Regions from separate parts of the Homo sapiens genome. Here region 2 is linked to region 1. Evidence: fine-mapped expression QTL. A gene starts in region 1. The other region holds a variant in brackets. All regions are shown on one strand. Distances are from middle to middle.

Region 1 (4,382 bases):
TTTACACAAGATACATGCAATGTGTGAACTTTTATGACACCTACCTCCTAGAAAAGCACTACAGTAAATTTCTGGATGAGAAATTACTTACTGAAGAGATAAGCCAAATTGTTTTAAAATTTCTCCAAATATCCAAAAAGTTTTTCCATCCTTTAGAATAATTTATTCCTAAATTTTATTCCAACAAATAAGCTAACACTGCTCTCCGAATCATTTTCTAATTAAACTTTGAAGACGAGACAAGGATCATAACAGAAACAAAGAACAAGAAATATTACTAAAAATTAATCAGTCTTAACAGAGATATTCTTACCAAATGCCATCTGGGACACATCCAGATCGGAAATAGAATACTGAGAGGTAAGAGAAAGGCCTGAACTGCACCAGAGTACTTCCTAACTCCTACTGTACACTCGACACACAGACTTCCAGGGAAAGTCCTGGGGTTCCGCTAGATGTTTTAATGGTCTCTCTTTTCCTGTTTCAAAAATTCTCCCCAAGAACAAGCAACAGAAACCCCTAGCTTCCAAAAAGTAACAAGCTGTCAGCAATGAAGCAAACAGAAACCCTTTCACTGGCACATCTGAGATGCCCACGGAGTCTGCGGACCCCCCGTATTCTGGCAAGCCTGACTGGAATACTGGTAAAATGTACACCTCATTCATCCCTCGGCAATTAACCTCCCCATCAGCAACGTGTTGGTTTTATTCCCAACACACATAGGCAAAAAACTTCAATCAACTCTTCCTAATATTTAAGATAATTTCATTAATCACCACGTAAGTTCACCACTTTACTTGGCAACCACAACTCATTCAAACGCCTGCAGACCAACTTAGGCTTAGATGAGCAGATCTCTTAGGTGGTGCTTAAAATCGTGTTACTACCACCGTGATCATGAACTAAATGAAATGTCCTGACAATGTAGGAAGAGCCTCAAATCTCAGGCTGTTTTAAGTGCCACTAGGAAAAGAAATCTCCCATTGGACGCGCCCTCACTCCCCGCCCCCCCCCTGCCCCGCCACTCCCGCCGAGGCGTCCTAAAAGCATTATGTCATCCACTGCCCCCACATCTCTCCAGCTCCAAACCCCGCCTCCTCTCGAAGTGTCCCGCGCCCCCAGCCCTCTTCCCTCTCAGACTAGAAGAGGGAAGTGGCACTGAGCAAATCTCGGCTCCTCCAAGTTCTCTTCACAACGCAGTTAAAAGAACCCCCGCCCTGGTTTCTCGCAAATAAAAAGAAACAAGTTCTCGCCCCAACTCTTCGCATCCTGCGAAGGGCGAGAGGGCTGAGGCCGTGACTCCCCTCGGTGAATTCAGGACAGGCCCCAACAAGGCTCTGCCTCCCCTCGCGAGAGGACAAGGGAAGACCCAAGTGAGGGAGCGGGGCTGAAGTGGGGGAAGGCCTCGCCCCAGGAGGGGGCGGGTGTCCCTCATGGGCTCTGGGTTGCTGGGTCACTCTGTCTCTGCGGGGCCGGGGGTTCGTGTCGCCGGCCCGCAGGCTGCAGGGTTACCGCCATCCCCGCCGTAGCCTGGGACCCGCCGGGACAGGGAGCTGCAGCGGGCCCAAACTCACGGTCGGTGCAGCGGCTCCTCAGCCACAGCCGGGCCGGGTGGCGGCGGGGGCGGCGGCGGGGGCGGCTGCGGCTGAGGCAGCAGCGGCTGTGCCTGCGGCGGCGGCTGAGGAAGCTGAGGAGGCGGCGGCGGCGGCGGCGGCGGTGGCGGCTGTTGCTGCTGCTGCTGCTGCTGCTGCTGCTGCTGCTGCTGCTGCTGCTGCTGCTGCTGCTGGAAGGACTTGAGGGACTCGAAGGCCTTCATCAGCTTTTCCAGGGTCGCCATGGCGGTCTCCCGCCCGGCACGGCAGTCCCCGGAGGCCTCGGGCCGACTCGCGGCGCCGCTCAGCACCGGGGCAATGAATGGGGCTCTGGGCCGCAGGTAAAAGCAGAACCTGAGCGGCCGTCCATCTTGGACCCGTCCCGGCAGCCCCCACGGCGCCTTGCGTCCCAGACGCTGCGCCGGCGGAGGCGGGGCCGCGCCGGCGGAGGCGGGGCCACGCCGGCCAGCATGATTGACAGCCCTAGCCTGCGGACTCTGCCAATGGCTGGCCAGGGAACCAGCCCGCCCCTGCCCCCGCAGGTTCTGCCTCACACAGCAAGGCCGCTGACAGCGCAGCGCCCCACCCGGGCGAAGGCGCGGGGCTCAACGGAGAGGGGACGGGGCGTGGTGAGACTGTAATGGGGTGAGGCGAAGCTGTGTGTGAAGTGTCGCGGCGAGGCGGGACGAGGAAGGGACGGGGCGGGACTGCATGGTAAGGGAGGCGTGGCGATGCGGGGGGCGTGGCGATGCGGGGGGCGTGGTGAGGTAGGGGCGTGGCGAGGCCGGGGCGGGGCACAGCAGGGAGGCCGCCTGAGGGGCGGGGCGAGACGGGGGCGGGGCGGGGCGATGCTGGGGACGGGGACATTAGGCAGGCCGGCTGAGGGGCGGGGCGGCTGAGGGGCGGAGCGGGATAGGGGAGGGGACTGGCCGGTGAGGGGTGGGGAGGCTGGGGGCGGGGCAGGAAGGTGAGAGGTGGGGCGAGGGAGGGGTGGGGCGCGGAGGGGCAGGGCCATGGAGGGGCTCGCCCATGAAGGACGGGGCCATGGACGGGGCGGGGCCGTGGAGGGGGCGCCGAGCGCGGGCGCAGGCCCATGCGGAAAGGATCCCCCGCCGACGCCTGGAGCGGGGCGACAGCCGGCCGTGGACTCTGAGCCGAGGTGGCCTTGGGGTTTGCCCTCCCGCCACACTGGCCCGTGGCCAGAGCCATACTCACCCGGACAGCCCTGCGGGGAGCCAGCTGCGGGGCTCTCTGCACGGGGAGAGGGTGGGCGAGCTCCTGCGCAGAGCGCAGAGAATGCGCGTGGTCGGCACGACCTGAGGACCCCAAGTGTGACCCCCACCCCACCCCCAGTGAGCTGGAGAGGCCCCTGCAGGGCGGTGTCCACAGGCCTGGCGCCCCCCATCGGTCCCAGCGCAGCGCCCCGGAAGGGAGGAGAGGGTCTGGGGCAGGCCTGGGTGGTCAGCGCCTGCTGCCCACAGAGGCACTGTGATTAGTGCAGCGAGAAGCAGCTATGGCCACAAGATGCCGCCCACAGGAATGAGTCCCGACCTGGGGGCGTTTCTTTATGGGAGTGCACCCCTGCTCTGACCTTCCGGCAGGACCCCCAAGGGGCGTCATTCAGCAGCAGCTCAGCAGAGGTCTGTGGGGCACCCCCTCACGCCTGGGACACAGGCCGTGGCGGGCAGGGTCCTGGTCTCCAGAGCCTCCTGCCTTTTGGGTGGTAGAGGGGCAAACGGAGAGGGCAGCTGTCCAGCCTGCCCAGCAGGGAGTAAGGTTGGCCTCAGAGACAACCGCCCAGCCGGGGGGTGATGCAGGCAGAGAGGAGCCCAGTAAAGCCTACTTTAGCCAGGCCACACCTGCAACCCAGAGTCCCCTGCTCTGTGGCCACAAACAGCACCTCCGCCTTGTCTCAGAGCCTGTCCTAAAGGGAAACCCAGCATTGTCCCCAGTGGGGTAGCAGTAGCCTCCCTTTTCTTGAGAAGGACAGCAGAGAAACAGCTGTTAGTTCCCAGTTCTTGGGAGGCTGATGTGGGAGGATCACCTGAACCCAGGAATTTGAGGCTGCAAGTGAGCTAGGATTGCACCACTGCACTCCAGCTTGGGTGATAGAGCGACACTGTCTCTAAAAAAATTAAGTTCCAGCGAGGTGCGGTGGCTCACGCCTGTAATCCCAGCACTTTGGGAGGCCAAGGCAGGCAGATCACCAGAGGTCAGGAGTTCGAGACCAGCCTGGCCAACATGGCGAAACCCTGTCTCTACTAAAAATACAAAAATTAGCCGGGTGTAGTGGTGCATGCCTGTAGTCCCAGCTATTCCGGAGGCTGAGGCAGAATTGCTTGAACCTGGGAGGTGGAGGTTGCAGTGAGCCAAGATCATGCCATTGCACTCCAGCCTGGGTGACAAGAGTGAGACTCTGTCTCAAAAATAAATAAATAAATAAAGTTCCCAGTTCTCTGCTGTTAATAAGGGCCTTTGTCCACTGTGTCAGGCCTCAAGGTTGTTAGTTACCTCAGTGGGCAGACTCATAAGATGGCCCCAGCACCCCTCACCTCCTGGTATTGACACCCTTGTATGACCCCTCCCCGTGAGCTTGGGCTGTACCTGGTGGCCTGCTTCTAACCAATGGGCAAAGGTGATGGAATGTCACCCCATGACTAGGTCGCAAAAGGGTATGACTTCAGTCTCCCTGGCCCTCTCTGTTGCCTTCTTGGCATGGATGCTCTGATGAAGTCAGCTGCCATGTTGGAGAGGCCCACATGGCGAGGACATAAAGGCGGCCTCTGGCCA
Region 2 (4,382 bases), 110 kb before region 1:
GAATAACTCTCTTCATCTTGTAAAAATAACTCCCCTCCCCTGCAGCCCCTGGCAACCACCATTCTACTTTCTATATCTATGAATTAACTACTCCAGGTCCCTCATGTAAGTGGAATCACATAGTATTTGTCCTTTTGTGACTGGCTTATTTCATTTAGCATAATGTCCTTAAGGGTCACCCATGTTGTAGCATGTGTCAGAATGTCCTTTTTTTAAGGCTGAATAATATTCCACTGTAAATATACACCAGATTTTGCTTATCCATTCATCCATCGAGGGACACTTCAGTTGGTTCCACATTTTAGCTATCGTGAATAATGCTGCTATGAATGCTGGCATGCAAATATCTTTTCACCACCCTGCTTTCCATTCTTTTGGGTATATACCCAAGAGTGGAACTGCTGGGTCACATGGTATCAGGTGTACTCTTACAGCAACAAATATTTTCAACTGGCACACTGGGCAAGGCAGAGTTTCTACCGGGCAGCACAGCTCCTACACTCTGAGAGTGTATAGTGCAGAATGGGGAACGAGACACTCCAGGAAGACTAATGTGATTCACCTACCAGACTTGAAGATGTGGATCAGACACATTAGCAGTGTGCCTAGTTCCTGGCAATAGAAAGTATGTTGCTGCTCACTCATTTCCACCTTCAGCTGTTTTGTAACAATGTCTTCTAAAAGAATACCAACCAGTTGTAATAGAAACCTTCCAAGAAACAAAAAAGATGACAGTGAATTAGGTGACTACTATAAAGCACTTACGCCAAGTATACATGAAAAGATATATGGTAAATATAAAGTAAAAATATAGGTAGAGTACATTAACCGCTAAAGTGAAATGCAGAGCGCCGTCGCCGTGGACACAGTCACTTGGTCTCTCTGTGTATCACCTTCCTCACTGAGGATGAAATGGCAGGTAGCATTTTTTTAAGCTTTGTGAACTGTACACCATTACACAAATACAAGCTGATCATCTGTCACAGGAATTTAATGTATCATCAATTTTAGCCAGCTGCTTCAATGCGACACAGGGAAAGCCATGGGCTGCCTGCTGAACCTGCAAACCAAAAGGTGCCCAGCAGGCTTACTGGGCTTATCTCCTTCGACAACACAGGGCATCTCCACTGATGACAAACCAAGTGAAGGCTGCATGAAGTCACAGCCACTTAGCAGAAGCAGCACATTTGCAGAAGCAGCTCTAACTCAGTGAATGCTCAGAATCTAGCAAAGGTGGAGAGGGACCCATCTAGGCAGCAAGCACTTACGAGTGCCTCATCACTGTCCTTGGGGAGCTTCCAAACAATTTATGAGGGAAGACAGGATTTGATACTACACGTATTTATTGGAGGCAGGCTGCCCTGCAGGGAGAAGACTTTTATTACTGACAGCGTGTAAAACTGCCAGCACATGGTGACAATCTGAGACTCACTTTTACTGGCTTCTCTTGGGTTTCAACTTCCCTGACGTCAGCGTGCCCCTACTGCCTGCCCCCAGGACAGCCACCCCACTGCCCTGCCCTGCCTGAGGCGAGCCACTGCTGTAGCATCTCTACTGAGGACAAGAGACAGAACATGACAGAACTTCAAGACAGGTATGAACCAAGAGCCATAGATAATGCAGGACGGATTAGAAAATTACACTGATACAGACTTCTTTACCCAACTCAGAAGTGAAGCAAGACCAGGTATTATTCCAGACTTACTGACTGTGAAACATCACGTGACTTCCCAAAAGGCATGGGTTAGTTATAGGCTCAGATAGAAAGCATACCTTGAAAATGTTTCTTCTGGCAAATTCTTTATTTGTTTCCCTTCACTGTGTTCTTCTAGCGTTGAAGTACTGTCCCCATCTCTTAACCTATTAATTACTGTACAGGAGATTAAATACGGAGAGAAGGAGAGCTCCTGAATACGAGAAAGAACAATATCTTCAGTTGACTGGGAAATCAGAACCCTCAAAATGGCCAGAATTCCCGATATCCACAGTTGAACAGTGCTCACGGACGCCTAAAATAAACATAATACATAAGTCACAGCTGAAGAAAAAAGGAAGATTAAATTTCCCCCAATTGCCAATTTTGTGAAAGAAAATAACTCCTATTTTACTATCCTACCAATAAACCTCTCTATCACTGAGTCCCAAAGTGTGCTCCCAGAAAAGCAGGCATTAGTTTCACCTGGGAATTTGCTAAAAATGCAAACTCTTGGCTTGGTGCGAGAGCCACCTGTAATCCCAACACTTTGGGAGGCCGAGGCGGGCGGATCACAAGGTCAGGAGATCGCGACCATCCTGGCTAACACAGTGAAACCCCGTCTCTACTAAAAATACAAAAAATTAGCCGGGCACAGTGGCACGCACCTGTAGTCCCAGCTACT[C/T]GGGAGGCTGAGGCAGGAAAATTGCTTGAACCCGGGAGGCGGAGGTTGCAGTGAGTCGAGGTAGCGCCACTGTACTCCAGCCTGGGTGACAGAGCAAGGCTCCATCTCCAAAAAAAATAAAAAGGCCGGGTGCGGTGGCTCACGCCTGTAATCCCAGCACTTTGGGAGGCTGAGATGGGCGGGTCACGAGGTCAGGAGATCAAGACCATCCTGGCTAACACGGTGAAACCCCATCTCTACTAAAAATACAAAAAAATTAGCCGGGCGTGGTGGTGGGCGCTTGTAGTCCCAGCAACTCGGGAGGCTGAGGCAGGAGAATGGTGTGAAGCTGGAAGGCAGAGCTTGCAGTGAGCCGAGATCATGACACTGTACTCCAGCCTGGGCGACAGAGTGAGACTCTGTTCCGCACCACCCCCACACCAAAAAAAAAAAAAAAAAAAAAAGCAAACTCTCAAGAAGCCCTACCCAAACTGACTGACTCAGACATTCTGGGGGTGGTCCCAGTAATCAGAGCCTGAACAAGCCGTCCAGATTCATCTGCTGAGCCAGGCGAGAGACTCACCATTGTGTTTGGAGTGACGAACATACTCCGTAAAAGCATGTCTACCGGACGGAGGGAGGAAGGGGCCAAAATCTCAAATAATGTATTTAACACTCCAAGGGCTTCATGAGAGTCAATGTGCATCTGTGGAATTAGACACCACAAACATTTCTACGTAAGCCAAAAGAAACGACAGCTTCCTGTACACCAGCTATGTAACTCAAGGGCAAATCATCATAATCATCTCATCGTCACCTTCCCTCATTTAAAAGCATTTTAAGTTCAGTGGTGAACCAAGCAAACATTTTTACAACAACACTGTATAGCTACATTTTTCCCATAACAGAAATCTTGTCATTTAGATTTTTATTACATAAATAATAAATGCTTTCTGTAAAAGACTCAAATATACAAAAGTGTGAAAAAAAATCAACTAGCACTGCAGCACCCTGACACAATCATTACCAACATTTTGGGGACCAGTCTTCCAAGCGTCCCTTTGTATACACATACATGGGATGGTGTGCACTTTTTTTTTTCTTTTTCTGCACTCCATCCCTCCCACAACAGTTGTAACAAATGCTAAGTGGTGTGTGTATATCCCTTTCTTAATCTGCCCCATGTTCCTATAGCCATATCCTTGCCCCCTCACCCACAGAGGTTTTGTTTTAGTTGTTTTGAAAAATCATAAACGTCTCTGCTCTTCTCACTTAACCCAGTGCAATGGAGAACTCCCAAGGCAACTGGCTGAACTTCCTTTCTTCCTTCCTCCCTCCCCTTCCTCCCTTCCATTTCTTCCATTTATTTCCTTCCTTCCTTCCTCCCTCCCTCTCTCTTCTTTCTCTCTCTCTCTTTCTAACAGAGTCTCACTCTGTGCCCCAGGAGTGCAGTGGCGCACGAATGGGCTCAAGTGATCCTCCCACCTCAGCCTCCTGAGTTAGCCAGGACTACAGGCGCACACCACCACACCCAGCTACTTTTTGTATTTCTAGTAGAGACAGGGTTTCACCATGTTGCCCAGGCTGGTCTCAAACTCCTGAGCTCAAGCAATCTGCCTGCCTTGGCCTCCCAAAGTGCTGGGATTACAGGCATGAGCCACCACACCTGGCCAGAACATTTTTAATCATGCAAAATAGCCCAAGCTAAAATAGTCTAAGCTTATACCACAGTGTGTTCAACCATTACTTATTGATGGTGGGCACTGACTGTTTCCAATTTTTGTTTCTACTGAGTGTGTATACATAGTAAACAACTCTGCAAACAGATGTGGTGTTTTTCAAGGCACAGATGTGAAGCTCACAACACTGGCCACATCTTACAACAAGGGAACAACTGACTTGAGCTCCAGGATTCCTGCATCCTGGACCCTCGCCTGTGCTCACCAACTCTGCCTCCTCCCCAGCAACTCTGGGAGAACCCACAGTGCTCTGTCATCCATGCAGCCAATCCTAACCCATGTCTGT

What was found. PIP is the estimated chance that this variant, and not a neighbour inherited with it, causes the effect.
Region 2: its variant is the best candidate, but not a certain one, in a credible set for the expression of HTT in whole blood (INTERVAL, PIP 0.52).

What each region holds. Positions count from the first base shown.
Region 1 is chr4:3,072,281-3,076,662 of GRCh38, reverse strand. HTT (huntingtin) reads right to left here and starts at 1,982. Exons shown (of 67, transcript NM_001388492.1): 1 at 1,575-1,982. The coding sequence starts at 1,837. It also overlaps HTT-AS. RefSeq lists enhancers at 1,087-1,136, 1,147-1,376 and silencers at 1,537-1,606, 1,717-2,156, 2,307-2,926.
Region 2 is chr4:3,185,278-3,189,659 of GRCh38, reverse strand. HTT (huntingtin) reads right to left here. Exons shown (of 67, transcript NM_001388492.1): 38 at 2,941-3,063; 39 at 1,774-2,009; 40 at 567-709. Among named protein-coding and RNA genes, the nearest start is that of MSANTD1, 62 kb to the left of the region's middle. The variant C/T (reference allele first, on the strand shown) is at 2,379.